3 separate regions of the Homo sapiens genome follow, and all the other regions are linked to region 2. Evidence: fine-mapped expression QTL. A gene starts in region 2. Each other region holds a variant in brackets. All regions are shown on one strand. Distances are from middle to middle. Region 1 overlaps LRRFIP1 (LRR binding FLII interacting protein 1). Region 2 holds the start of LRRFIP1 (LRR binding FLII interacting protein 1). Region 3 overlaps LRRFIP1 (LRR binding FLII interacting protein 1).

The links.
Region 1: its variant is fine-mapped to the expression of LRRFIP1 in whole blood (TOPMed, PIP 0.99).
Region 3: its variant is fine-mapped to the expression of LRRFIP1 in blood mononuclear cells (TOPMed, PIP 0.94). The same link has a PIP of 0.9 or more in whole blood.

What each region holds. Positions count from the first base shown.
Region 1 is chr2:237,676,007-237,686,021 of GRCh38, reverse strand. All of the region lies in intron 1 of LRRFIP1 (LRR binding FLII interacting protein 1), which reads right to left. Among named protein-coding and RNA genes, the nearest start is that of LRRFIP1, 53 kb to the right of the region's middle. The variant A/G (reference allele first, on the strand shown) is at 4,984.
Region 2 is chr2:237,622,905-237,632,919 of GRCh38, reverse strand. It overlaps LRRFIP1 (LRR binding FLII interacting protein 1), which reads right to left and starts at 5,333. Exons shown (of 24, transcript NM_001137550.2): 1 at 5,180-5,333. The coding sequence starts at 5,275. RefSeq lists enhancers at 863-1,424, 1,427-1,926.
Region 3 is chr2:237,757,289-237,767,303 of GRCh38, reverse strand. It overlaps LRRFIP1 (LRR binding FLII interacting protein 1), which reads right to left. Exons shown (of 24, transcript NM_001137550.2): 17 at 9,756-9,848; 18 at 8,483-8,575; 19 at 7,099-7,240. Among named protein-coding and RNA genes, the nearest start is that of RBM44, 36 kb to the left of the region's middle. RefSeq lists a silencer at 4,663-4,875. The variant T/C (reference allele first, on the strand shown) is at 4,619.

The DNA of each region.
Region 1 (10,015 bases), 53 kb before region 2:
AGTCAGAAAATAGAGACATCTCCTGGAAGCCACAGAGTGAAGAGAGCAAGGTCAGGAAAGACTTTAATTTGCAACTAGAAAAACACTGGTCATTACATTCTGCCATTAAAATTTGGCAATTAAACATTTTCTGTGATTTGTGCATGTGTAATAAATGGTAGACGGCAGCCTTGAAGGAAGGCGGGACCAAGGAAAAGGCTTTGCATGGGGGAGATTTATTCATGGTTTGTCGGTTTTTAAGGATGGAAGAGATGTGAGCCTGTCTGGAGGCTGAAAGGACAGTGAGAAAAGATGGAGTGGGTGGGGCAAGGCCTGAGGGGCTGCCGACCAAAGGCTGGGTGTGGGGAGCGGGGAGGGGAGCTGCAGGCACTGGCATCTTGTACTGACTCAGGATTTGATCCGATTGTGAGCTCCATGGGAATGAGGACACCAAAGTGGCCAGGAGAGGGCAGATAACTAGATGCAGAGCTTCCTGTGCAGGAAGAGTGGATGGCAGAGTTGAGGGAGGATAAGGAGCAGGAGGACCCAATATTGAAGGACCTGCCTCAGAGCTGTATGTGTCCCAGTCAAGGTGCACTGTACCTGAGCTCAGAGCCCTTCCATGGCGTTACATTACACCATTAAATGTTGTTTTGTGATACACTCTGAGGCATACTTAAAATAATTTCTAATGTATTTTACTCTGGAATTAAACTCATCTCAAAAAGTGTCTAGGAATAAGTCTATAGCAATCCTAAATGTATCCGCTTTCCCAGTGTGTTCCACAGAATTGATGCTTTTTAAGTCCATACCAGAGTGACCACAGTAACCTCCTCTATACACAGTAGCCAAGGAAATGGCCACAAACACCTCCAGTAAAGCATCTCTAAGAAAACCACTTCTGATTTTTGGGGTTTTTTTGTGTGGGGGGGGGAGGGTAGGGAGACAAGGTCTCACACTGTTGAGTGTCAGGTTGGAGTGCAATGGCACAATCTTGGCTCACTACATACAACCTTGGCTCACTGCAACCTTGTCTCAAGCTATCCTCCCAACTCAGCCTCCCAAGTAGCTAGGCCTGCAGGTGTGCACCACCACGCCTGGCTAATTTTTTTTTTTTTTTCAGAGACAGGGTTTCAGCATGTTGCCCAGGGTGATCTTGAACTCCTGGGCTCAAGCAATCCACTAACCTTGGCCTCCCAAAGTGTTGGAATTACAGGTCTGAGCCACCGCACCAGGCCCAATTTTGTTTTTCATGAAGACAATGCACTGCAAATATCTACCAATTACCTTCTAAAAACACGACAGCTAAAATCCATTATGTATTTCTCAGTCTTACAGGCACAAACTCTGAAAAGTCCTCCTAAGGCAGCTCTCCTGTGAAGAAAAAAAAAATCTATACATGCTCTCAGAATAGTTCATTTAAAATGTTCAGAATAGATGCTGACATGGGGAAATAAGCTTCATCCTCAACAACTGCATTCACCAGCTAACAGTATACCCCACTGAGAAGAAATAAATCAAATGCTTCAATATATACTTAGGAATAGAAAATGGCAATTTGTTTTTTTTGAGATAGTCTTGCTCTGTAGCCTAGGCTGGTGTGCAGTGGTGTGATCTCGGCTCACTGCAGCCTCCGCCTCCTGGGTTCAAGTGATTCTCCTGCTTCAGCCTCCCAAGTAGCTGGGACTACAGGTGTGTGCCACCACACCCAACTACTTTTTTTTTGTATTTTTAATAGAGATGGGGTTTCACCATGTTGGCCAGGCTGGTCTTGAATTCCTGGCCTCGAGAGATCTACCCGCCTCGGCCTCCCAAAGTGCTGGGATTACAGGTGTGAGCCACTATACTTGGCCAAAAAAAAAAAAAAAATGGCAATTTTAGTACAAAATAAAAGCAATGTATTTTTTCCAGAGATTCCCTCATTTATGTGGCTTTGCCTCAGTAATCCTGCCTATGAGTTTAACATTCTAGAAAAGAGAATATTCCTGACAGTCAGAGCCATGAAATAAATCTTTACGCTACTAGCTGAAAACTTCAGAATCCACCACGCTACAAATGTCATTGATAAATGTCATTCACAAAAAAAAGAAGTGTGGGGAGAATAGGACTCCATAATCTGAATTTAAACAGTACCCATAGCATACAGAGAAGTTTAAGGTACTCAAGATGTATTCGAAGGCTTAAAAGTAAAGCACTGCCACTAAGCAACTTGGCTTCCAGGCTCCCTGACTGAAGGGCAGACATGAACATCAGGAACGGTGAGCATCCTTCCAGCTGAAGGTACAGAAATCCTAAAACAGCATCCCCAAAATGATCTTTCCAAGAAAATGAATTTCCATAAAGGAAAATAAAGGCTAAAACACACTTCGGCATAACACTAAAAACATAGACCCACACTCTAATAGAAGGGTTTGCCCTTTTGCACTTTGGCCCTTGAGAGATAGCTCAAAGCAAAGTCATCAACTATTCGAGTACAAAAAATGTTCTCCATGTGTACAAATTGGATATCTTTAGAGAAGACTTGGACATAGAACATACAAGCCTCACCTTTGAAGAATGAAGATCTTAGATGAACTTCAGGGGGAGTGTGAGGAACGCCAGAGAGCAGCCATTTGGAGAGACATGCTTGGCACGAGAGTGGAAATTCTGGAATAACTGGAGATCAAATAGCCACTCCTGACCACGTCACCTTTATACCCTGTACCTCACTGGGCAGCTGCCTTGGCATGATGAGAGGGCGTGGTCCCCTAAACGCACTGGAGGCTTTCCAAATGCTTCTCTGACCTGACCGTCGGCTTGATTTTAGTTGCTGAGATTCCACTGAAGCCCTCGCCCCTTGTCTCCACCCCGTTGGTGGCATCTGTATCAAATGTGCTGTCGGGCTTTTTGGGAAACCCTAGGATTGATAAAGAGCAGGGTCCCCTGACGTTTGGGGTTGCACAGTTCCTTGTCGTGGGCGGCTGTCCTGTGCATTGCAGGATGGCTAGCCGCGTTCCTGGCTCCACCCACCAGATGCTGGCAGCGCTCTCCACCCCAGCTGTTACAACCAAAAATATCTCAGACATTGCCAAGTGGCCCTGGATCTAGAGGGGCCTGTACCTGCATCCGAGGTGCCCACACTGTGGAAGCACATTCATGTCTCAGCTTATACAGCTGGATGGGGCCCCAACAGTTCCACAGCAAAGCATGCACAGAAAGAATGGTCAAGATGGGAATATGTGCACACGGCATCTAACATCTGTTGCCTTCTTCTTTCATCCAGTGAGAACTTGAAGGCAGGGCTGCTTGTCAGGGACGGCAAGAAAGTCAGCGCCAGGAGCATTGAAAGACAGGAGGTGCAGGTCACTGGGTGGGAAGTGGGGAGTTGAGATTTCAGATGTGGTGTGGTCACACCAAGGGATGTAATCCTGGAAGTTGGCTGGAAGAAAGAACAGCTGAAGTGAGAAGATCAAAGAACTGGGTTTTGCTTCTCGGCACCTCTGGGAAGGCCCAATCCAAGAGTAAGCCGATGGGAGAGAAAACAACCCTGCACCCCTACACAGAGAATGCAAGTGACCTGTGCAGAAGGCCTCAAAGCTCCAAAGCAGAGGTTTAGCAGATAATCAGGCTCGAGCTCCTGTTCTGCCATTCACTAGCCTGTAATTTCAAGGAAATCCCCTGACCTCTTCCAGCTTCCTACGTAAAGCAGGGAGAGAGACAGCCAGCAGACAGGACTGCCCGGAGGACTGCAAGTAACAGGGGACCTGAGCCTGGCATGAACAAGTACTTTGTTCCGTTGCACTGGCAAAAGATTCCGTCTGGCAGCTCATTCCATCTGCTATTTGACCATACACAGATTATTTTTTTCCCGCAAAACAAGGGGCTCTAGAATTACAATTTACATCCAGGTTAGAGAAGTTGCGGGAAGGTCTAGCATCACTCAGTTAGCTTGGACTAGGTTTAAAACTTCATCAGTGCTTTTGGCACACTCAGGGAGCTTCTGCCGTCTTTCAGGCAGCTGTCCGTCTTCGAGCCCAGCACTGTGTTGTTGCTTTACTGCTATTCCCAAAGCCAAGCTTGTGGAGTTCTTAGTCCTCAGATGAACACAATTAAGAATAGGACTTTGGGAGGCCGAGGCGGGCGGATCACGAGGTCAGGAGATCGAGACCATCCCAGCTAAAACGGTGAAACCCCGTCTCTACTAAAAATACAAAAAATTAGCCGGGCGTAGTGGCGGGCGCCTGTAGTCCCAGCTACTTGGGAGGCTGAGGCAGGAGAATGGCGTGAACCCGGGAGGCGGAGCTTGCAGTGAGCCGAGATCCCGCCACTGCACTCCAGCCTGGGCGACAGAGCGAGACTCCGTCTCAAAAAAAAAAAAAAAAAAAGAATAGGACTGCGGCCGGGCACGGTGGCTCACACCTGTAATCCCAGTACTTTGGGAGGCTGAGGCAGGCAGATCACCTGCGGTCACTAGTTCAAGATCAGCCTGGCCAATGTGGTGAAACCCCGTCTCTACTAAAAATGCAAAAATTAGACAGGCATGGTAGCATGGGCCTGTAATGCCAGCTACTCAGGAGGCAGAGGTGGGAGAATCGCTTGAACCCAGGAGGCGGAGGTTGCAGTGAGCCAAGATCACACCACTGTACTCCAGCCTGGGTCACAGAACGAGACTCCATCTCAAAAAAGAAAAAAAAGAATAGGACTGTGTAAAAGACATAGGCATGCAAAGACCAGAAGGACATGCAGAATAAACACAGGGCTGCTCTGCCGAAGTGGTAGAACTGTGGGAGTTGTAAACATTGCTTTTTGAACACCCTTGGATATTGTCAGAATGCTCTTTTTACAGTACGCAGGTTAAGGAACTTGGACTTTATTCAGGAAGCAGTAAAGGACCCACTGAAAGTATTTGAACAGGGAGGTGAGATTGTGTTTGAATAAAGAAGCTGTGGGCTACAAAAAAGTTGAAAACTACCCCTGTTATGTTTTTTCAAAAATTTCTTGGCCAGCCTCTCCATTTATTCTTCC[A/G]GATTAACTCAGGAGTCTATTTGTTTTTTTTCTTTTTGTCATTGTTGTTGTTGTTTTTGACACAGGGTCTCACTGTGCTACCCAGCCTGGAGTGCAGTGGCGTGATCATGGCTCACTACAGCCTCCACCTCTTGGGCTCAAGTGATCCTCCCATCTCAGCCTCTGGAGTAGCTGGGACCACAGGCCTGTGCCACCTTGCCTGGCTAATTTTTGTATTTTTATAGAGATGGGGTTTCACCATGTTGCCCAGGTTGGTCTCCAACTCCTGGGCTCAAGTGATGGGCCCACCTCAATCTCCCAAAGCGCTGGGATTACAGGCATGTGTCACCACGCTGGCCTAGAGTCTATTTGTTAAGCTTTCAACCAACCTTCCCCTCTAAACTGAGATTTTATTTGAAATGCATTATGCAGTTGTCCCTCGGTATTCAAGGGGCATTGGTTCTAGGACCCCTTCCAACCACTGGGATACCAAAATTGGAGATGCTCAAGTCTCTGAGCATAAATGGTGGAGTATTTGCACATAACCTGTGCATATCCTCCTGTGTACTTGAATCATCTCTAGGTTCCTGTTCATACCTAATACAATGTAAATGCTATGTAAATAGTTGTTAGACTGTATTGTTTAGAGAATAATGACAAGAAAAACGTCTGTACATGTTCAGTACAGAGGCAACCATCCATTTTTTTTCCAAATATTTTCTTATTTATTTATTGCAATGGGGCCTCACTGTGTTGACCAGGCTGGTCTTGAACTCCTGGCCTCAAGCGACCCTCCCATCTTGGCCTTCCCAAGTGCTGGGATTGCAGGCCTGAGCCACTGTGCCTGGCCAGCCACTGCACCCAGCCTTTTTTTTTCCCAAATATTTTTGATTTGAGATGGGTTGAATCCATGAATGTGGAACCCACAGACACAAAGGGCCAACTGTATTTATCATTTATTTGGGGATGGATCCGTGTCTTTTTAATGTGGAGTTTTCTTGTTCAGAGACAAGGTATTGCTCTCTGCATTTTTCAACTGACTATGTCCTTCAGTAAATTATTATGGTCTTCATATAGGCCCTGCATTTTTCTTTATTCCTACATGCAACATTGAGTGGGATTTTATCATTTTTTCCATTATTTAAAAAATCAGGCTGGGCGCGGTGGCTCATGCCTGTAATCCCAGCACTTTGGGAGGCCGAGGCGGGTGGATCACCCGAGGTCAGGAGTTTGAGACCAGCCTGACCAACATGGTGAAACCCTGTCTCTACTAAAAATACAAAATTAGCTGGGCGTGGTGGTGCATACCTGCAATCCCAGCTACTCGGGAGGCTGAGGCAGGAGAATCACTTGAACTCAGTTGGCAGAGGTTGCAGTGAGCCGAGATCATGCCATTGCACTCTAGCCTGGGCAACAAGAGCGATACACCGTCTCAAAAAAAAATCATTACGGTAGGATATAGGAATGCTTTGGTTTTTTGTTTCTGTTATTACAAACTATCTTACTGAACTCTCAGTTTGAGACTGACTTTTTGGATTAGACATACACATAATCCGCAAGTATTTACAAATTTTATCTACACCCTTTCAGTAGTTATATTGCTGATTTCTTTGTTGGGTATGAACATCAGAACTGCCATTATCATCATCATTTTACGGTTATTGCTGATATATTCCTTCTTCCTTAAATTACTCTACAATTAGAGAAATAATCAGGACACAGTAGCTTTGTGAGTTAGTGCTTGCTCTGTAATCACACAGTACAGGACTCAGCCTTGTCAGAATTTAAATAGCATTTAAAACTGCTTATGAGATAAACAGAGTTGTGTTGCAAGGCACCTGAAAGGAAACAAATTACACGTCTCATAACAAGATACTCTTGCCTAAAGGCTAGAATCTAAGTTAGACCAGTGGAAGATCAACTTGGAGAAGGAATAATACTTAAGTCAGTGAAAAGTGATTTTCATTGTTGATGCTGGAGTACAATTGTCTACTGTGGTGACAGGGAGCACAGATTCTAGGCGCGCTGTGCCTGGTGGGAGTCTTCAGCGCTGGGCAAGTTACATATCCTCTCTTTGTGTTTCAGTTTCCTCATCTGTAAAATGGGAGGGATAATGGTACCCAGTTCCCAGGGTTTATAAGGATTAAATGAGTTGCTATTGATAATCATTATTTAAGTAAATACAATACTAGAGATGTAAGTGCAATGAAGGTGTTTGATCTATATAATGCAAGCTACAAAATAGTTTGAGGGGCGGGGTGCTGTGGCTCACACCTGTAATCCCAGCACTTTTGGAGGCTACGGCAGGCAGATCACTTGAGGTCAGGAGTTTGAGACCAGCCTGGCCAGCATGGTGAAACCTTGTCTCTACTAAAAAAATCCAAAAATTAGCTGGGCTTGGTGGCAGGTGCCTATAATCCCAGCTACTCAGGAGGCTGAGGCAGGAGAATTGCTTGAACCTGGGAAGCAGAAGTTGCAGTGAGCTGACCTCACTCCACTGCATTCCAGCCTGGGTGACAGAGTGAGACTCTGTCTCAAAAAAAGAAAAAAAAATAGTTTCAGGATAATTTAATCTAAATCTGATGTACCCAGTCACACTTTACCAAGGGATGTGGGAGCTGACATTTGTCCCTGACACACCAGCCCCTCCCCACCCACCTTCCTGCATACCCCAGGGCTTCTACCTTGCCCTACTCTGCACAGCCTGCTGTGTACCCCCTGCTGCAGGGAAAGAGGTGTGCCTGTTAAAACACACACAACCCCAACAGTAACTGGAATTCTACATCCCGTGGCTCTAGTAGGAGTAACCTTACTACTTTTCTAGAACAAGAGGCCTGAACTTTGCGCTGGTTATTTTTTTAAGGCACCCGGTGATTTCCTAGTTGAAAGTTATGATCTAGACAGCTGGACTTGAACTTCGAGAGCCAGATAAGGAGCTATGACTGTGCCTCCAAAGAATGATATTAGGCAATGGAAGCTCATGAACTTCTCCTTTTTGGCAAAGAGACCCTCCCATGGTGTAGGTTTTAGAAAAAGGGGAAATGGTCCGCCCGAGGTGACGCAATGGACTCAGAGTATTAACAAGATAAATATGTTTTTAATATAAAGCATATTAAACCTTTTTAGCTCTAACACTCTACGATTATTTAAAATATATGCCCTACATTTAGAATACAATATTAGAGCTCCAAGTCTAACTTGCAGCATCTTCGTCTCTGGGGGAAGGCAGAGGGACCCAGGCAGTGAGGAAAGCAGAAATCAGGCAGACCCCGATGTGGCTGGGAGGGTGGCCTCCCGGTACCACAGGTAGGCTGTGCTAGAGGTTTCATGGTGGCTCGATAATATCAGATAATACAGTGATAAGAAGGGATCTGCACTGAAACTTCAAATAATTCACATTTTATTAATTATGTAGTTTTTAGTTTTTTGGGTAGAGATTGGATTCTTGCTATGTTGCCTAGGCTGGTCTCAAACCCCTGGCCTTAAGCGATCCTCCTGCCTTGACCTCTCAAAGTGCTAGGGTTATAGATATGAGCTACTGTGCCTGGCCTTCAAATAACTTATATTAAATGGACAAAATAATTTGGTCTTTTGTAGGTAGAAGCAACCCAAGTGTCCACTGATGGCTGAATGGAGAAACACAATGTAGTATAGATACATAGTGGAATTTAACTCAGAATTAAAAAGGAAGGAAATGCTGTCATCTGCTAAAATGTGAGAAAACCTTGAGGACATCATGCTAAGTGAAATCAGCTAGTCACAAAAGGACAAATGCTGTATGATTCCAACTAGATGAGGTACCTCATACTATTCATCAAGACAAAGTAGAATGATGGGTGCCAGGGCTGGATGGAGAAGAGAATGGGGAGTCAGCGTTTAATGGGGGCAGAGTTTCAGTTCTGCAAGATGAAGAAGTTCTGGGGATGGCTGGTGGTGCTGGCTGCACAAGAGGGTGAGTATACTTGATGTCACTGAAATGTACACTTAAAAATAGTTAAGATGGCAAACTTTGTTATGTGTATTTTAGCACAATTTAAAACTAACGTTTAAGAAAACAATTTACCCTTTTGTTTATGTAATCACAAAAGGAGGAAGACGAAAGCCAGCGCAGAGTTTCCCCAGAAAACAGGAGCCAGATGGTGCGAATCCAACAGACTCCACGTGAAATCAGCCACACCAAAGGTCAGGAGATCTGTGTGGAGAGAAACTTTCAGAGAAGGCAACCAGGGCACATCTCTGTTTTAAAACCATCTCCTGGGCCGGGCACTGTGGCTCACGCCTGTAATCCCAGCACTTTGGGAGGCTGAGATGGGCAGATCACTTGAGGCCAGGAGTTTGAGACCAGCCTGGCCAACAGGGTGAAACCCAATCTCTACTAAAAATACAAAAATTAGCCAGGTATGTTGCCCATCTATAATTCCAGCTACTCAGGAGGCTGAGGCACGGGAATCCCTTGAACCGGAGAGGCGGAGGTTGCAATGAGCCGAGATCGTGTCACTGAACTCCAGCCTGTGTGACAGAGCGAGTCTCTGTCTCAAAAAACAAAACGAAACAAAACCCACAAAAATAAAACCATCTCCCTACCATGAGCCCTCCACATTTGCAATTCATGAAAATGGAAAGCTGTCATGTCCCCACGTGAATTTTCGGGTCTCACTAGAAAGATAACCATCAGGACCGGCAACATGGGATTCAACAACAGTTTCTGGTCTAATTTTTTAAAAAGGACGAAAGAAGGCAGGCTGGTGTCATGCAATACTGCTTGCATTAAAGTATGTACATTTAAACTATGTACCTTGAACTTTTATTGGAAAAGCGAAGCTCAGTAGTAAAAATTTACGTTAATCAAATTCATGGAGACAGAAAGTTGCATGGGAGTTGCCAAGGGCTGGGGAAAGCAATGCCCACTCCACCTTCAGCTCTGTGAATTTGGGGAGTCAGTGTTTAATGTGTACAGAATTTCAGTTTGGGAAGATGAAAAAGTTTTGGAAGTGGATGATGGTGATGGCTACACACTAGCGCACTTAAAACCACTGAACTTTACACCTAAAAA
Region 2 (10,015 bases):
GAAATAGGCCTAGGGACAAGTCTGACATCTTGGTTGCGTGCAGGTGAATTCTGGCCCCAGGGTCACCTCACCAGAGGGCAAGGGACTGCATTGGGGACCCAGATTTGCATCTTTGCAGCTGGGCTCAGTCCTGGACTCTCCACCCCAGAGGAGCCAGGTCAGGTTAGTGCTGGAGAGAGGTAGAGCGAAGTTTCCACACTGAACCCCACTTCTGGGCTGTTCTGGAAAAGAACACGTGCACCCCATCCCCAGCTTGGTTCTCCAACAGCCTTGAGGAGAAGAGAGACAGGCTCCCTCCGCACAGGTTGATATAGGAGGGCTATTTGGGAAGGACAGGGAGAAAAGATGAATGAAAGGGGGACTTAGGATGAAAAGACCCGATATTTACGAACTACCTGAAACAAGGGGCATGGCTTTATGTTGGGTTCCAGAAGCAGAGCCCATGGCAGGACTGGATGTGAGCCCTGTCCCAGCAGGGGCATGAGGGGGGCAGGCCAGTCAGGGAAGGGCTGGGGAGGGAGGTGGTCTCGGCAGGAGTTGGCCTCAGCCTGGCCCGCAGAGAGCTCCGGAGCAGGAAACGTACCACAGAATTGGTTGCATCTTGAAACAAGCCTGGGGGACATTTTGTGACCTCACAAAATGGTTACTTGATGGCTGCAGGCTGCCTTGGGGGCAATGCAACCCCTTCTCCACAACTGGAGTCCTTGGGGGCTGTGTGACCCCTTCTCCACAACTGGACTCCTTGGGGGCAGTGTGACCCCTTCTCCACAACTGGACTCCTTGGGGGCAGTGCGACCCCTTCTCCGCAACTGGACTCCTGTGTGGCCGTGGCTCAAGTGAAAGGCGGTGGCTGTGAGGCCTGAACCAACAGCACCCGCAGGCCCACGAGTCAACTTGGGGCCGGTGAAGCAGCCGGGTGGGGCAGCAGTGCCCCTGCCATGGATCAGGGCCCGAGGCCGCAGGCCACAGAGGGGCCAGCTTGGAGAGGAGGCTGCAGAAACAGTTATGGGGGGAGGGCCTCCGTCCTGCTGGGTGAGGAAGGGGTACCTATGGCACCACCAGGGGATAATAAGCTCACCGCACTGTCTCAAGGCCCCACGGTGAGTTCCTAATGCAGCCTGCGCAAATGACTGTTCCTGTTGGGAAAAACATTCTTCATTTGAGAGCAATACTTTGAATTGCATGGTGAGACCAGTATCGCTTTACTCAGCTGCAGAGTGCTGAATGAGAAGTTTGGGATGCTACCAAAATGCACCAGTAGAATGTGAAATGCGGTAGGAGAGGAAAATCTATCTGCGTTGGAAACACCCCTCCCCAGAAGTGGGAGGCGCAGCTCATGCCTTTGGTGCTAATGAGCTTCTGCAAGTGCGTACTAAACCTTTCTCCTGATAACATCCCGCCTGAATTCCACTGCAACAAGAGAGTGAGAAATAATTGACTTGCGATAATACAGCATTTGCAAATAACTCCCTTTACTATACACGCTTGCCTAGAGTTTAAACCATCACATGGAAGCAGGACACCGGCTGCAGAAGCAGAAATGCACCCTCCAAAGGCTGCCCCCACCACGAGTCCTGCTTCTACCCAGAAGAGTGCAAAGCCCTGCCTGCACAGGGCAGCCTAGCTCTTCCCCTCGCTCCAGCGAACTGGAACCCACGTCCCTGCCAGGTGACTCAGGCTTCCCAATGACCTCAGCCCAGAATTTTCCACTTACTCTCCAGAAGGCATGTTCTTGGGTGCCAGGCCCAAGTGGCAGCCCACTCCCTCCCACTTCCTTGAAGCCTCCCCAGTTTCCATTCAGGCCCCCACCTTCCCAAGTGTTTCAGGGAGGCCGGCTCTCCCCAGTCCCAGGATGAGTCTGACAGGTCACAGGGTAGACCCACCCCCCTTTGCCACAGGCACTGAGCCCCTAAGTCCATGGTCCTTGTCAAAGAGCTTGGTGCAGGAGTGGCCAGACAGACTCATGAAAGTTTACCAGGGAGATACTGCTAGCTCTCTGGAGAGAGCCACCAGAAGAGACGGTGTGTGGGCTCCACAGTGGCAGCCCGGGAAAGCCAAGGCCAGCTGGCCTCCATGAAGCAAGTCAGCCTGAGGATGAGGCCACCCACAGAGGATGGCCCAGCCCAACCAGCTGCGCAGGTGCTGTGGGAAAAAGAGGCCGGAGCCACTGGTGAGGCTGGCGGGGAATCCTGCCCTGCCTCCGGGCTTGCTGTGCTCCAGCCAATATACTTCCCCTTGTCAATGTCAGTCCAGTCAGGGTTTCTGTCCCAGCAGCCAAAGCATCTTGACTGGTACATACAGCCTTCAAGAACTCAAAATGCCACTTCCTCCAGGAAGCCACTTCTGAGACCACTGGCCGGCTGTGATTCTCTCTCATGTCCAAACCTTCAGAACACTGTCTACGCCCTTTTTATATCAGATCCCTTCCTGTCTTCGGTTAGCATTATTGATCTACAGGTGTCAACCCCTTTCTGACCCAACTCCTGGAGGGCAGGCAGGTCCTCGCCGGGTTCCTCCCTGACTCTCCAGTCTCCCCAGGACAGGAATTTGGATACCATGGCTTGTATCTGTTGAGTCAATGAGTGAATAAGAAAGTACTGAACCCAAGACGATTTTGTTGATTTCTATAAGAACCCTGATGAATTCAAGGAGTAGATATTTGCCATTTGAATAGTGATTTTCATTTTCACAGTTGAGAAATAGAAGTTAATTTGTACTAAAACATAAGATGTCACACCTGCTCCCTCCAACCCTATCAATCTGTGCTACTCAGCACTAGTAACAGCTGCACCTACGGCTGGGTTTTACCGGGAGGGGCGTGTAAGAAGCTCTCATATTTACCCACCGCCTAGTTACATACTTTACATTGCTACCCACTTTCTTTAATTCTGACAGCCAGGGGAGGTTTCTTCTTCTCCATTTTAGAGACGAGAAAACAGAGGCCCAGAGAAGAGTGAGTAACTCACCTTCCTAGGATGGCACAGCTGGCTAAGAACTATGTCATTTGAAAGCCCAGCTCTGACTCACAAGTCTATCTCTGTAACTCCAACTGCATCTCCCTCGGTGGGAGGGAGGACCTCAGGGCTCTCAACCCAAGGAGTGTTCCCTTGCCTTCCTTTTCAATCTATTTTATAAAAACCAGCAGATAGGCTGGGCGCAGTGGCTTACGCCTGTAATCCCAGCACTTTGAGAGGCCAAGGCGGGAAGATCACTTGAGGCCAGGAGTTTGAGACCAGCCTGGCCAACACGGTGAAACCCCGTCTCTATTAAAAATACAAAAATTAGCCGGGTGTGGTGGTGCGTGCCTGTAATCCCAGCTACTGGTGAGGCTGAGGCAGGAGGATCTCTTGAGCCTGGGAGGTGGAGGTTGCAGTGAGCCGAGATCATACCACTGTACTCCAGCCTGGGCAACAGAGTGAGACTGTGTTAAAAAAAAAAAAAAAAAAAAAAAAGAAGAAAGAAACACCAGTGGATAAAAGGCAAACTCTGGAAATTTTCATTCTTCTCATTCTTCTGCCCCATAACCACTGACATCAAGACAAGGCTTGCGATTCACTGGCCACCTCTGGCCCTTGCAGGGAACACTTGTAAGGCACTGTGGTCAAATGCATACATAAGTGACTGTCTTCACAGGAGGGAGTTATACTCAAGCTACTATATTTAGCAAATGTCTATATTTAGCCAAAGGTCCTTTAAATGCCTTGTACTTCTTTTGTTTATTAATTAATGTAACAGACATAGACAAACACCTAGTATGTGCCTGGCTCTGTGCTGAGCTCTTGGGATACAAAAGTAAGATATTTCCTGTCTGGGTGTCACCTTCTACAGGTGGACAAATAATGATAAGGTATCCTGACTGCCATGCCAGGCGCGGGCATGCCATGGAGGGCCGTGGAGCCAGGGAGACTTAGGCCTGGTGCGATGTGAGAGGGCTGAGTCTGGAAGGTCTCCTGGAGGTCACAGTGGGCTTCCAGGAATGAATAAGGGTTTGCCTGGAAAGCCCTTTTCTGTATCATACAGAGAAAAACAGAAGTCTTTATTCACTCAGTAGTCAACAAATACTGAGTGACTGCCACATGTCCGTAAGAGCAAAATCAGGTATTTACAACTACAAACACCTAAGGATTGGTTACAGAGTAGATCCCCCAGAATATCTGACGGATACAGCCAGACACCACAGTCCAAATGGCTTGGAGGTGTTTCCTGTGGGAAGAATCACATGTGGAAAAGCCAACACGGAAAAGAACCTGTAAGGCGGGTTACAAGGCAGAGACTTTCTTTGCATTCATACACCCACCTGGCACACAGTTCAAATGGTACAAAGGGAACACAGTCAAAAATTAAGCTTCCTTTGTCCCCCTGGGGCCGCAACCTATTGGCTCCCCTTTTCCCAAGCTGCTGCTCTCTGTCCCTGTACGGCTTTCTGGATGTCATGTACATTCTTTAGCCTTAAGGTAGAATCCTTGCGGAAGGAAAAAAAAAAAGGCATTTGTACAAATACCCATTCTAGTGCGCCTTCAATTTGTCACAGGTAAAGTTCATCACCAAACATGATCTTAGTTACAATAAACTCTGTCCAGGAAACTTTAATGAAGACGTTTCAGTGTGCCTGGACCCGTTTCCAGGCTCAGTCCTGAAAGAAAAATCACAGTGATCCCCAAGTTCATCTCTGAGCTGCACCTTGAGTGACATCGATGGATGGATGACAAATGGTCACCTGAGCGACTCGGCCATTTCAGCAGGGCCATGTGGCCTCCGGCGACCGTCCACTGCCTCCAGGTCGGGCCTAAGCCCCCGCCTCCTCCCATGCCGCACAACAAAGCGGGGCGCTCGCCCCCACCCGGCCAGCCCGGGCCACCTCGCGCGCTGGCGGCGCCCGGCTCCTCTCCCGAGGGCGCAGCGGCCGACGGTGGCCGGGGTGGGGGAGGGCGCGCAGCGTCGCGGGCTGGGCCCGGGGCTGGAGAACGGGTGCGGGGTCCGCAGGCCTCGGAGATCGGGGCCGGGGCGCAGCGCCTGGGGATCAGCGCCCCGGCGCGCGCCTGCCCGGCCCACCCGCCTGGAGCCGGACGCGCAGTGGCACAGACGCACAGCGGGACAGACGGACGCCGGAGAGACCCTGACAGCCGTCCGGCCCCCGCGCCCGCCCGGCGCCCCCCGGCTGCCCTCCCGGAGCGCTCACCTCCCGCGCGATCTGGTTGAGCGCGTCGTCCTCCGCCGTGAGCCGCTCCCGGTTGGGGAGCCGCTTGCGCCCCGATCCCTGGGTGCCCATGTCCATCGACCGCGTCGCCCGCAGCTGCCGCGGGGCCCGTTGCTCCAGCCGCTCGCGCCGCCCCGGCCCGGCCCCGGCCCCGGCCCCTCCCTCCGCCGCGGCGTCATGGCGTCAGCGGGCGCTGGGCCGGGGACGCGGGGACGCGGGGGGACGGGGGCCGCGGGGACCCGGGGGAAGCCAGAGCCGGAGGTCCGCAGCGCGGGCCAGGGACTGCAGGGGCCAGGGACGGCGGGGCGGGGGACGGGGGCGGGGGGCGGAGACGCCAGGTGTCAGGGACGATGGGGGTCCGATACCACGGGGACGCTGCGGATGCCCAGGGCCGGGCACGCGGGACCTGAGGGACCGGGAGCCCCGGAGGGTGGACTTTGCGGGGACTGTTTGGCGGGCCGGTAATCGCGGAGCGACGCGCGCCAGGGCGGTGGGCACCGGTTGAGTGGGGACCTGAGCGGAGAGCGGGGGGGTAGGAAGGCTTTCAGAGGCCTGAGTTGCCTTGAGGGGTTTGCACGGAGGGGTGAGCACAGGATTTGGTTCAGCCTGGCGCTCCCCATTCCGCGGTGAGTCGGGGTGGAAGTCCCTCGCCGGGGTGAGAGCTAGGCTCTGGGGTCAGGCCGAGAGGTGCTCGGATCCGCCCGCCACCGCCGCTCCTGTGACCTTGGCCAGCCTCCTGGGCGCCGGCTTCACAGCGGCATGGTGTGGATGTGTGCGTTTCTGTCTTTACACGCGTGTTCTCCGTGCTAGCATCCATCCTTCTCCCCGCTGTCTGCCCCCTGAGATCAAGGACTTGTCACTTCTCTGGTGGGTCCCCAGCCTCTAGGATCGGGGCAGGTGCGTCGCAGCTCTCTCCTAGTTGTTGAAAAAGTAATGAACTTACCTGTGCTCTCTGAAGCTCACAGTCTATGCTCCAGAGGTGGATTTAAAAGTAAAGCAAATCGGAGGATTAGGTAGGGGTTAAAAGCCCCTGCCTAGGGCACGGCAGGAGCACCGGGTGGGAAAGTTACTGGTGTGTTTGGGGTATGGGGAGAACTTCAGTGTGGCTGGACCTGGGGAAGGATGGGAGGGAGGGTAGTGATGGTAGAGGAGAGGAGGCTGTACTGAAGTCACCTGTGATTTTTTTCCCCCAGTGATAAGGACAGTTAACATTTCGGTGTATTTCCCACCAAGTGGTGTGACCAGATTGCTTTGGATTCTTAAGGAGGTGGCCTGGAAGCTGTATGAAGGTGGGAAGAGGAAGAGGGCCCTTCCACCCACAGTGGCAGGGAAAGCTGTTGGAGGTTTCATTGCAGGGAAAAGACAGCGAGTCCAGTGACATGGGAGGGAGGGCAGATCCAGGTGACATTGCTCTGGGTGCCTGAGCTGACGCAGGTGGGTTGGCAGGGCTGACTGTGGCATTGTTCATGACTGAACTCCGGGAGCAGAAACTGCACCTGCACATTGTAGGCACTAAGGAAATAGGTGTTGACTGAATCTTCCAGGCCATATTTACATTACTTCAGAGGCCATACTCCTTAAGTGACATAGTCCTCCTTGGGGGAAACCTTGAGCCGTGGCCACTTGCACTGCCTTGGTCTTGCTGGTGGCTGCTCACTGTTTCCCAGCCCCTGGGGCACTGTGGGGACTGTGCGTCTTTGCCGAGGCTGGTCCCCATGAGTTCACTCATTCCTGCACCCACACCTGCTGCCTGCCAGCTGCTGAGCTGGAGGCTGGGGCATAGCTGTCCGAGAGGCAGACACGGCTGCTGCCTCTCAGGGCTGACTTGAGATGCCTGGAGCTCCTTAACTAAAGCCATATCCAAGTTCCAACGTCTCCTTTCTAAAAGAAGTCTCCCTTTGCTCCCTGTCCTTCATTGGAACTTTGAGCCACTTTTTGCTAACACCTAAATCCTCCATCCTGATGTGTTGAGGCCAGGAGGGCAGGCGCTGACCCCATCTTCCTCATCTTTAAGCCTTCACCAGGGACTGGCTGTGCCAGTTGCTTAGTGGAGTGCAGTGGTTGAACTTGTGGAACAGAGTTCAGTTCCCAACCCTCCTCCCCACTTTCCCTGTTGGATTGTTGTCCAGAGACAGGAGATTCACTGCCGTGGGGACTGGCCAGAGGTGTGTCTGAACAGCTCCCGCTGGTAGACAGTGTTCTCGGACACTGTGGTGAATTCAGCTTCCTGCCCCTCCCCCATCATCTGTCCACTTCCAGAAAAGAGCCGCCTTTCAGAAATCATCAGAAACAACATTGCTGGGTCCTCCCATGACCCCATGACATAACAACTTCCTGGCTACAGTCCTCTTCCCCTGGCGATGTGCTCTCAGAGTGGACCGGTTCTCACTTCAGAGTCAGTTTCCGCCTCTAAATGGAAATACGGGTGCCCACTGTCTTAGTTCCTTTGTGCTGCTGTAACAGAACGCCTTAGACAGGGTCATTTATAAAACCACGGAAATGTATTGTTCACAGCTGTGGAGGCTGGGAAGTCCAGCATCAAGCCTCCAGCAGAATCAGTGTCTGGTTGAGGCCCATTCCTCACAGATGGTGCCTTCTGTGTGTCATCTCATGGTGGAAGACGGGCTCCCTCCAGGCTTTTGTGTAAGGGCACTCATCGCGTTCATGAGGTCTCTGCTTCAGGACCTGGTCACCTGCAGGCCCCACCTTGCATTGAGGGTTAGGTTTTGACATATGAATGGGGGGGCCACCGCCATCCAGACCATGGCCTCTACCTTGTCAGGGTAGGGACAGTATTCTAGGCAAGAGCCCTTCCAGGGCTTCACACACAGGCAATCGATCAATCATCCTTACAGCTCCTGTCCTCAAAGGCCCAGGTCTGGAATGAATGGTGAACAGCAGTTCCTGTCTGGGCAGAGGGGAGCTAGACAGAGGTATCAGGCAGCTTGGTGGGTCTTCTCCGTGCTTGGGGTGCCTCCTGGAGGAAGATAAAGACCTGCAAGACTCCATCATGCTGATCCATGGGTTCACCGAAAAATTGTGGCTTTTCCTCCACCCTTGACCGTCGGCCCTCCCTGCGTGGAAGTGCATGAGCCTGTTTCCACTGAGAAGACTGGCCTCTGCCACCAGCACTACTGACCCCTCCCATCTAGCCCTTTTCCTATTCCAGATGGTGACACTACCCACCAGGGCTTACTTCAGAGCAGGAAATTGAGAAACTATATCACAGATCTGATGTCCAGGGCCAGAGAATTAACATGTTCATCTCCAAGCCTGGTACCAAGTCCCTTCACAAAAATACAGATGCCACCTTCAGGAAGCCTCCACGAGAAAGTGGAGGCAGCCAGGGAAGCCTTGGCAAGGGAAACCACACAGCGGCGCCGTCCCCAGCGCAAGTTTGCCTTGGTTCAGGAGCTCAGTGGGCAAGCCCTGGGGGCTGGCTGGGAAAGGAAGTTGATGAGCAGCTACGGAGGGGCGTCCAGTCTGCATGAGGACTCAGAGCTTCTCAGGCAGAGAGCCATCTGAGCCATCATGTGGGCCATAACGTGACTCACTCTGGGTCCATTGAGAGCATCATCCGCGTGGGCCTACCTCAAACCTCTTTCACCAGCACTCCAGCCTTGCTCTTCCAGTTCCCAGAGGATGGAAAGCCCTGCTTTGGATTACAGCTGGAGCAGGGCAGGAGAACTGCAGCCCCCCCCCAGGAATGCTGAAGGACCCGTAGAGGAGAGCCATCTCTCACGCATGGAACTTGGAGCCAGCACTCTGCCCAGAAGTGGGGCTGGCTGAGGTCAGGGTCTATGTGTTGCTCAGGAGGTGAATGGTGTCTCCTTTGTCCTGCTGGACGTTTTCAGGTGCATCTTTCAGTAGCTCAATCACAGCACTTCCAAAATAAATCAGTGGATGATGCCTGCCCCAATAAATGCCTCTTCCTTCCCAGGACACCATCACTTCCAGTAACTTTTTCATGTTTTTTGGAGTAAAAACCTTGGAACCATTTTGAAATCCTTTCTCCTTTCTCTACTAAATCTGATCAAATACCCAGCTGGTCTTTTCCTTCATCTCTATCTGATCATTTTGATCCTCCTTTGGCATGTTTGCTGATACCACCAAGCTCTGCAGCTGGTCCCCCTTATCCCTCATCTGTGGATTACTAGCATAAGTCACCTTCTGGACTTGGTGTCTCCAGGGTAGGGTGTCTGAGACAATCTATGGGGTAGGGGAAGCAAATATAGAATTTCTGTTATATATATCTTCAACTAAAAATTAGAAATCCAATGTTACTAATTTTTGGTCTATAAGCTTATTTCAAGCGGTCACTCACTCAAAGCATTTCAGGGGCTGGCAGTGGCGTGCTCTCTCATTACATCATTTTCTGCATATTTTGATATATTTCGGTGGACCAGGTTAAAAGGATTTATGGATTGCCTAACCTAGTTTTAACTAAAACTCAAAGAGTAGATAAATGGCTTCAAAAGATTTAAAAGATTCCCAAAAGCCACAAATAAACAAGAAAATGAGAGACTTGTTTCTTAGTTCAGGCAGGAGGTCTTCACTGGCCTCAGTATAAGGTTATTAGACAGGATAAGAACGTTTAGTAACCATCAAAACTATTTAAACATTAATTTACATTTCCTATCATTAATGATTAACTTCATTCTAAGTGGATATTGTGCCTTTATTTATTAACTAATGATGATAAACTAGGAACATAATTTGTACATAAATATGCAAATACTTGTGGGAGTTTAAAAATACTTGCGGATCATTTCCATTATCAAAAACATCTGGGTTCTAAGGGCAGGTGCCATGGCTTAT
Region 3 (10,015 bases), 130 kb before region 2:
TTTCAATTCTTTTCTGAGTTTGAATCTTTTGACACTATAATCTTTCTAAATTGCTCTATATATTTCTATACCTTCTTATATGGAGTATAGCTAAGTCAACTTTCTTTTTCTTTTCTTTCTTTTTTTTTGAGACAGGGTTTCACTCCATCACCCAGGCTGGAATGCAGTGGTGTGAGCACAATTCACTGCAGCCTCGACCTCCCAGGCTCAGGTGTTTCTGCCTCCTAAGTAGCTGGGACTACATGGGACTACATGCACATGCCACCATGCCTGGCTAATTGTTTGTATATTTTTTTTGTAGAGATGGGCTTTCATCATGTTGCCCAGGCTGGGCTTGAACTCCTGGGCTTAAGTGATCTGCCTGCCTCGGCCTCCCACGTGCTGGGATTATAGGCATGAGCCAATGTGCCCGGCCTCAACCATTTCTTGATAAGTTAAGGGCCTTCACAGTAATATCAATTACTGTGCTTGGCTATAAAGTCATTACACTGGAGAGCATATAACTGATGCTCAGAATGAAGGCTCTGAAATCATCGAGAAATGGTTTGGCTGCTCAGAACTCTTTCTTTTTCCTTCTTTCTTGCTCATGGATTTTCAGCTGTCCATTCCCTACTGGAGGGCTGGGTCCAACTGCTTGTTCACTGGCACAGTGCCTTCCATGTACAAAGTGATCAAACCTGTCTATTAATTAAGCAAATGAGTGGTGAATCACTGAGACGGCTGGATGGCTGAGCTGAGGGATGTGATGTGTGCCCAACGTCCTGCAGGGTGCTGGTGAATAACATGAGAAAGAACTTAAAATGGCTTGATGATCTCACCATTTAGTGACCTTGGTTGTCACACTGCTTTCCAAGAGCCCTTTAAAGGTAGGAATGAGAGCTGTTTCCAGTATGCATTCCAATAGGAATGCAGCTTTGCTAAAGTTAGAGACATAAACTAAAACCCTGTGAAGTCCTATAGAGCCCTTGGACTTATTTCCTAGCAAGCATTTATCATCCCCACCATCCTCTACTTCAGGACACTTGAGCAGAAACAGTCAAGGTTTTTGCCGTTTTCATCCTGCTCTTCAAAACACTGTAAGTAGTGGCGCAGGTAAGCACAGCCACAGGTGAAGACCGTTTTCAGCTGAGGCTGCACATCAGAACCACAGATCACAGGGGATGGTGCGTGACAATCGTCTCAGTTCTCCCAGTAATGCCCATGCTAGCCCCAGGCTCGATGCCAGGAGGGAAGTGCATTCCTTACTGAGGGAGGGCATCAGGCGTGGGTCTTCCACGGAACCCCAATAGGAATCAGCAACCCCCAAGCAGATATTACTCAAAGGTGGTATTACATACAACAGTAGTCAGACTCAGACTTCAAGCAGCCCAAAGAGTGGAACCACAGGCTTGCACAATTATAAAATGTTTTTATTTCAATTACATAATAACACGTTTTCCTCAAATTTTATTGAGGTTTTGGTCTTTTTGCATTCAATTCTATCTTGTAACAGTAATATGAATCCACATAATTTCATAAAATGTCAACAACATTCATAAGGTACATTCCTTTGTGATTTTATATTTTACAATTTTAAATCTAACTTTACAATTATTTTAAAAAATTTTTTTATATAGAAAACAGATATTTTCTTCAGGCAGATCAAAACAAGAATTTTCCAGTAAGAATATACTGGGACATAACAAATGAAAATATTTATACCAAAATACCAAAAGTGATTCAGCTCTTTAAAATATCCTACTATAGTCTAATTAGTAGCTTGTACAAGAACAAGTAACCATTTTTTACTGCTCTTTTGAATGATGATTAGAAATTCAAACAAAGTATTTTAAGGTTCAAAAACTTTTTTTTTTTTTTTTTTTTTTTTTAGAGACAGTGTCTCACTCTGTCTCCCAGGCTAGAGTACAGTGTGCAATCATAGCTCACTGCAGCCTTGAACTCCTGGCCTCAAGCAATCCTCCCACCTTGGCTTCCCAATGTGCTAGGTTTACAGGCGTGAAAACATTGTGTTGTGTGTGTGTGTGTTTTTTTTTTTTTTTTTAGACAGAGTTTCGCTCTTGTTGTCCAGGCTGGAGTACAATGGCTTGATCTTGGCTCACTGCAATCTCTGCCTCGCAGGTTCAAGCGATTCTCCTGCCTCAGCCTCTGGAGTGGCTGGGATTACAGGCGCCCACCATCACGCCCGGCCAATTTTTTGTATTTTTAGTAGAGACAGGGTTTCACCATGTTGGCCAGGCTGGCCTCGAACTCTTGACCTCAGGTGATCCACCTGCCTTGGCCTCCCAATGTACTGAGATTACAGGCATGAGCCACCACGCCCGGCCAAAAACATTTAAAAAATGACTGTCCCTGCTCAAATACTGCAGTAGGAAATGTAATTTGACATATATCACTTCCAGAAAAAAACTTTAAATCTTTCTATAAAATGAATTTGATACATCATCAGCATGAAGTGAAGTTAAAATCTCTTACAAAGTAAATTCAGGTATATCAACAATGAGATCCAAAAGTATCGGTTCAAGATCAAAGACTCATATGAGGTAAAGGCAAATAAAGCCCCTCATGCTTTCAGACATTTACTTGTTATCCTTAAAATGATTATTGTTCTAAGGTGCAAATCTTATCATTCAGTGACCTATTTGCTATTTGGCTGTTTATCTCCTTTAAATAAAATACCATACAGGTTATAATGTACATTTTAAAATCAAATATGAAAGTACACATATGTGAACAAGACATTAATTTAAATATCAATTATATTCATAATACAGAAGTCTAAGAATGCTATTTGGTCATTTCAATTAGATGCTGATATATTTGGTCAAGAAAACCCACATTCCTATCAGCCTAAGGCAAATAGTAAATGCCTCTATTTTTATTAAGTGGACTATAAACAGTAGACATTATTGTTTGATACTACTGGAATGCTCTCAATTAGAACGTACACTGATAACAAATATGTCTTTCTAATCTGGGTGATAACCTCAATGATTACATGGAAATCTACAAGTAACAGTCTATAACTTAAAGCAGTAGAGCACCTGGTAATTGTCATACAGTGCCTCTCTATGAATTTAGAACATTCTACTTACATTGGCAGTGGAGAGAAAAGACCCCTTCACACTGAGACTTCCTGTGCACCGCGCCTGCCGCCTGCCTCAGCTTAGGACATGGTACAGTCTTCTTTGCTTTTGCCCTTCTCATTCCCTCCTCTGGTATCTTCTCTGCTTTCTGGATTGAAGTGCCCTGGCTCTCTTCCTGGTGCCGACAAGTCATCGTTCTCTAGGCTATTGCTGTCTAAAGCTTTCCTGACGGTCTGACTTGGATGTTCTGACATCTCACACCTCTCTGTACTTTCTGCTTCACAGGCATCACTAATGTCCTGTGAGGGACTTTCATGTTCGGGCAGGGTGCAGCGATCTGCGTCTTCGCTCTTTGGTTCTGCAGGACTGCTTTGAGTGGCACCATCTATTTTAGCATTATCTTTTGCAACACCTTCATCTAATTCTTCACCACCAGCCCTCGGGCCTGATGATTGAACGGTGTCATCCTCAAAATCTAATGTGTCTCCATCAGCTAGTACCTCCTCAGCTGCTGTTTGTACATCATCACCTTCTTGGTCAAGTTTTCCATCCAACTTAATTTTAGGATTCTCCGGACAATCAACATTTTCACTGCTTTCTGCTGCAATTTTCTGTTTTGGATTTTCAGTCACCTCGTTTTGGGCTTCCACTGCTGACTTTCTGTCAGTAGACTTTACCTGCTCTTCTTCCTTAATTTCACTTAAATCTGTGTTCTGATACGTTAACTCTTTTTTAACATCTTTAAGGGTTTCTACGGGTACTGGGGATTTTTTCTTCTTGTTTTTCTTTTTCTTGTTCTTTGTCTTCTTCTGCGATGAGTCCAATGCCTCTCCCTGTTGGTCACTCTTTTCTTCATCGGGCTCTTTCATATCTAAGGGTTCATTTTGAGTGTCTACTGTACTTGGACCTGTCGCTTCCTGACAGTTGCCCTCAGTTCCTGCTGGAGAACCAGGAACTTCTGTCTTGATTGGTTTCTCGTCCCTTAATCCTGTTTCTTCACCCTCTTCTTCGTTGTGATCCCTACCTACTTCTGTACTGTGCGCTGGAACCTCCTTGGGCTCAGCTGCTTCCTGGTTGGTGAATTCTTTCTCTAAACTATGCCCTGTGCTTGTCTCTAACTCTTGGGGGACCTCTACCATACATTTGTCATCATGATAAACTGTGTCATCACTATGCCCTAAAGGACACGAGGCCACTGTGCCTGCCTGCTCTTCAACCTGAGTCACTGCTGCCTCTCCCACATTCTCTGTGTGGTTCCCACCATCTAAGTCACTCCAACAGTTGGATGGCTCAAGGGGAGTTCTGGTCCTGTCATCTGGTGCACCCATGACCTCATTTGACTCAACCTGTACTGTGTTTTCAGGGAGAGAACTGCTCTCAAGAATTTGGCTTTGAACCTGTTCCTCATAGGTAGCACCTGCTAAGGTTCCTAGGAATGGGGCAGTGTCTTCAGAGGATTTCTGGTCCTCGGTATTCTCACCAGCAGGGAATACCTCTATGTCCACACAGTCCTTCACTGTGTCCTCTGTGTGTTG[T/C]TCTTTCTCAGTATTGTGCAAGATTTCTCTTTTCCCCACATTCGCCACGATTTCATTTTTCACCTCCACTTCACTGGCTCTTCCTAAAAGACCATTGAGAAAATTGAAGGGACCCCATGATGTGGCGGCCACATAATCTACATTAGAATGTAAACACACGTTCCAAATCCCACCCACCCCTATTCCTAAAGACAGAGTCATCAAAGAGTCATGAGAAACAAGCCTTTGCCAGTTCTGTGCGGCAAAGCAGCAGTTGCATTAGTAAATTTTGGGTCAGTGAGGGCCACTGCCACCACATCAAAGGCCAGAGTGGCTGCTGGTGCCATCTTGTGTGGACAGATTTTTAAAGGTGACGTTAAGTTTCAACAAATAGAAAGAACTCTGGATCAGGCAGCCAAACAATCCACAATGATGGGTTTAGGAACAGACTGAAGGTTCAATTCCCCACTCTCACTTCTCAATGAACAACTTGACAACTTGTACTTTTGCAGCTGTCAAACTGCACTCCATGTCACACAGCCCTAAAAGCAGCTTTCAAGTAATTTTTAAAAAGAATATTCAGTGCACTTTTAGAAATGCAGCCTCAAGGTCAGTCTCAAGGAAGATGCTTTTGAAATAGCTCATATGAAAGGAAATCTATCTTCTGCCACTCAACTATTGTTTTCCTGAGAAAACACCCTGTGTCCATGCCCTGATACCTCTGCTCCATTCCCTAAGGGACTAGGGAGAGAGGACCAGCAGGAGGCAAATGTTCAAGATCAAGATGACCACTAAATTAAATGATAAATTATTCATCGTCTAAAGAACATCAAACTGTTTTGGAATTTTTGGACTCTCCAAACAAAACCCCAGCAGATTAGATATGGTACTATGTTACTGAAAGTCAAAGCTAGATAATTTTATAGCCCAGTGATCTCCATGGTGGGGTGCCCATATCCCAGGGAAAATGGGGGAAATATTAGGAATTCTATTTAGAGTTTTACTCTAAAACTTCTTTGCATATCTTTGCATATATTTTATAACGTACATTTTATATTAATGAAATAGTATACATATGTAGATTTAAAATAAACATACATATTGGATCCTACAATTCTTTGCTGAAGGAATATGTGATCAAAAGTCATTTGAAGGCCACTTTCAAAACTGACATTTCTGGTTCTTACAACATTTCACAATGGTTATCAAAGATTTATAAAATGTGTATTTGAGTAAGAGCAGCGTAATCAGATTCCTAGCTGTTCGGGTAGCTCATATAAAGGTATGATGGAAATTGATTAATTTATCTTTTCTCAACAACGGTATATAGATACTACATACCTATCTAGAGACGGAATCTTGCTAGGTTGCCAGGCTGGCCTGGAATTCCTGGTCTTAAGTGATCCTCCAGCCTTGGCCACCCGCAGCGCTGGGATTAGAAGTGTGAGCCACTGCACTAGGCCACAACTTTTTTTACACAATTGAAAAGAGCTGTGTTTCTTTAATAGTCATAAAGATAATGAATGAGGTACCTCCCTGGAATGCGAGGCCTGAGAAGATGGGGCCTGGAGGTGTCTACATTTCCATAAATAAAAAGAAATAAGATGAAAGCTTCTACATTAAAATGAAAAGTCACGGACCCTGACCTTATTCCAGCCTCTTTGTAAAACACTGGAACGCAGAGGGTGACCAGTGACAGATGAGGCCTCACTTGCACGCTGCAACTTCAGGCTGCACGCCAGAATCTGAAGGTTTCTCCCAAAGCCAACTCTTATGACAAATTATGACAAATCAGATCATTGAAAATGGTATAAAATATTCCTCTGATCTACTGGATTCCCCAGTTTTATATTCTTTCAGAAGCAAACACGTGGCATACAAAGGAGGATCCCCTCTGACAAAGGTGGGCATACTCAGACTCTCAGCACCGCCACACCCACTACCACGGCCGCCTGCCCACCTCGAGCGGTGGCTTGAAAAAGGCAACACAGACGGACCTGCTGTCCACAGGCACCCCGTACCCTCAAAGCGCTGAATGCTGCCCAGGATGTCGATGTTGGCTTGCAAATATGGCCAACTGACTTGACGGCCTCAACCATTCTGATCTTTTGATAATTCTGTCATAGAATCGGTTTAAAAAGCCACACTTTATAGGTACAGATATATATGTGTCTGAGGAAAACCAAATAGTACTCTCCACATTGTTACTTAATTTTGAGACTGTTTTCCTTTTGCCTTCACAGTCTTGCTTGGTAGCTTTGAGCAGCAAAAGAAAAGGTTCACTTGAGCCATTGATGGTGCACTACACAGAGATGCATGCCAGACAACACGTGGGTGACCACACCGGGTGGGCAAGGAAATTACCATGAAGTGATGAAACAAATGGCATGCTGGTGACTGTTAACCCATCAGCGACGGTGGCTCCAACCCCAGCAGTGCATGGAGGGTGAACCAATGCTGAGTGGAAAGGTGTGAGGAGCCGAAGGAAAGCAAATACTTACCTAGGGTCCCATCCCCTGTCGACTTGAGGGCATTTAACTCTTCTTTTGTCATCTTGGTAGGACCTTGGTATCCAACATTATTGAGGGTGTCGGAAGTCTCTCCATTGGTAGCTATTTCTGAATTTAGGATTATTCCATGTTTCTGGGAACAAAAATAGGCTCATCGTAATATTTACTCAGTGATATTAGGTTAAACTCTGTTTTAATACAATAATAAAAAAGAAAACCATTTTTTCCTGAAGTACAGGGTAACTCCACAGAGACAAGAGAAATGCTAGGGTGCAGCACTCGTAAATATTCGGTCAACACACACAAATCTGGGATATCGTCCTCCAAAGGCTACTTCTTTCTCAGATGTTCCAATCCATGCTTTCATTTGCTGGTGACAAGCTACTTCCACCAGGCATCCTTTTTAACTACAGGTAGTGGCCTGTGGGCTGCCCCCAAGTGGAGCAGTAAGCAAGTCACTGCCAAGTGACCTTTCATTTCAAAACCCTGATTGCATTCTTTAAAAAGAGAAACCAGATAAAGAAAGAAATATATACATGTTCTGAAAGAGACACACGAAACTTATGTTAAAGAAGGAATTCAGAGGTGGCTAGAATGTTCAGTATATTCAAAAGAAACAGAATTCACTGAAAACAGCAGCACTTCCCAACTGCAGACATCACTCACCCATGCCCTCCTGCCGCCTGTGGCTCTCTCTCCCTTGTGTGTGAGGAACTCCCCTGAACTGATCGCCTCTTCAAGGAGCAGAATTACGAATCTTAGCTCTAAGCCTGTAGCTGGCTGGCTCACTGCTCTGGCTTTGACCCTGGAGGCCAAGCAGCAGATGGTGACGGTTCAGGAACCCCCCCACCCAGAGTGCTGCCACTGGCGCTTCACCTGTGTCAAGCAGCGGCTGAAGACGCCTTGGCGTGGCCCACCAAGGACAGGGAACCGTCTTCCACCTGTAATCTAGTAGGTCTCAAAGTCTAATTAGCGGGATCCTTGCCCAAACCACTTACCCAAGTCACTGTTCCTCTAGAGAAGTCCTTAAATTGGGGGTTTTAATATAAAGAGGCAAATTAATTCTCTAAGTCTGAGTAATATCCTGGAGAATTTACTAGTGAGTATGAGAAAAATTTAGATAATGTATCAAAAAATTCTTGCATTCAAGATTGGCTATGTTTATTAACATCAAAAGGCCTTGGGCACCACCCACTGAACCTACATTTATTTTACATCTCATCGCTGTCAGTTAACCCAATATATGAATTATTAACAGAACTAAATGACATAAAATGAATTATGTACACACATATTCACAGCATCCCAAAATTTGCTGTTGTCACCTGGATTTTTTTTCTTTTTTTTTAAATAAAACTGTAGTTTGGCTTCATACCTTTAATTCCTCTTTCAGCATGACTACTTCTTCTCTAAGATCATCCCGTTCACTCCTTACGGAATCAAAGAACTCTTTCTGCCTCTCTAATGCCTGAGTGTGCAGCAGAGCCAAGAGAAAGAAGAAGATTTGCACAGATGAGCAAGTTACTTCAGAAGCAGGAACCAGAAGGAGGCTTCTACCATCTAAAACACTAGTGGACTCTAGACATTAAAGAGACTCTGCCTAAAGATACTAACAAAATCCAAGTATTAAGCTTTTCGCTTAGTATATATAATCCAAGAAATGTTACTGTTCATACTCCATGAAAGACATGCGCATCTTGAAGCACACGGACACAGCACGGGGCCCCAGAGGTTACTATATTTGCATCACTTTCTAGCTTTGTCTGCGTGTTCACAGCTGCGTTAGAGTTACGCAAAGTCTCCACTTGAATGAGGGGTCAGTAAAGAAAAGGGATTGCTTAAGCACCTCCCAGGACGGCTGTTGTAGCCATTTAGACTATTTTTATACACTGATTCTTGGTATCCATCATCTCAGATAAATGAAGTGGTCCTAAAGTGTGCGTGCATGCAGACACACACACACACACACACACTCCTAAGTGCTGATGAGCGTGACAGTGGAAACACAGTGTGGCTTGAGTCAACGTGCCGATGGTTTGTGCAGGTATCTCGACGTCTTTATTAGAGCTATGTGTAGGAATCACCATTTTGGGGAAACCATTTGTTGTTACCAATCATGACAACTACTTTGTGGGGTTCTGTTCCCCCTATCCTTCAATTCTAAGTGTAGAACTGCCTCTTTTCTTCTTGTGGAGGGAGAAGGGTATGTGGAGACCTTCCCTGGGGAAGATTTCAAAGTGGGGATATCTGCCTGGTGGTGCTTAGATTTTTTTTCTCAAAGCACCACCAGGCAGATAATCCCAAGACGTCTGGACTTGCACACATCAGACCTCCTCAGAGTGTCCTCCTCACTCCAGCTGTTTCAACAACCACCGGCCCGGCCCAGCCACGGGGCAGGCAGAGCGCACAGCTACGCATTCACAAGACCCTCCATGGAGAGTCCGTGTCACAATCCAAGTTCATATCAATTTGGATAAGTTAGTGTATTCACTACTTAATAAAATTAAATAAATTAATACGACTTTGTGTCACGTGGGAGTTGCATGCATACTCAGACAAGCGGTTTTGCAAACTAAAGACTCTGAAAAAACTCTATTTGCTAAGCAGGCTGCCCATTTGAGTAGATTTTCAAGACTTGGGAATCCTACCCCTATCTTTTTGTCTTTCCACTCTATTGTTTCCTGAAGATCAGAAATCTCCCTGATAGAACTCGCCTGTTTCTGCTGTAGCTGTCGGATTTCCTGAGGAAAGGAACAGACAGAAAGCAGATAAAGGGTTAAAGAGGAAGAAAAACCCCAGCCCGAGAGAGAACCTGAGAGCTGGGACAGTGAGTGAGGCCGCAAGCACTCTTTCACCTCATCAACCCTGAACTCATTGTCAGCATTCTAGGATTTTTTTCCTTGTCCTA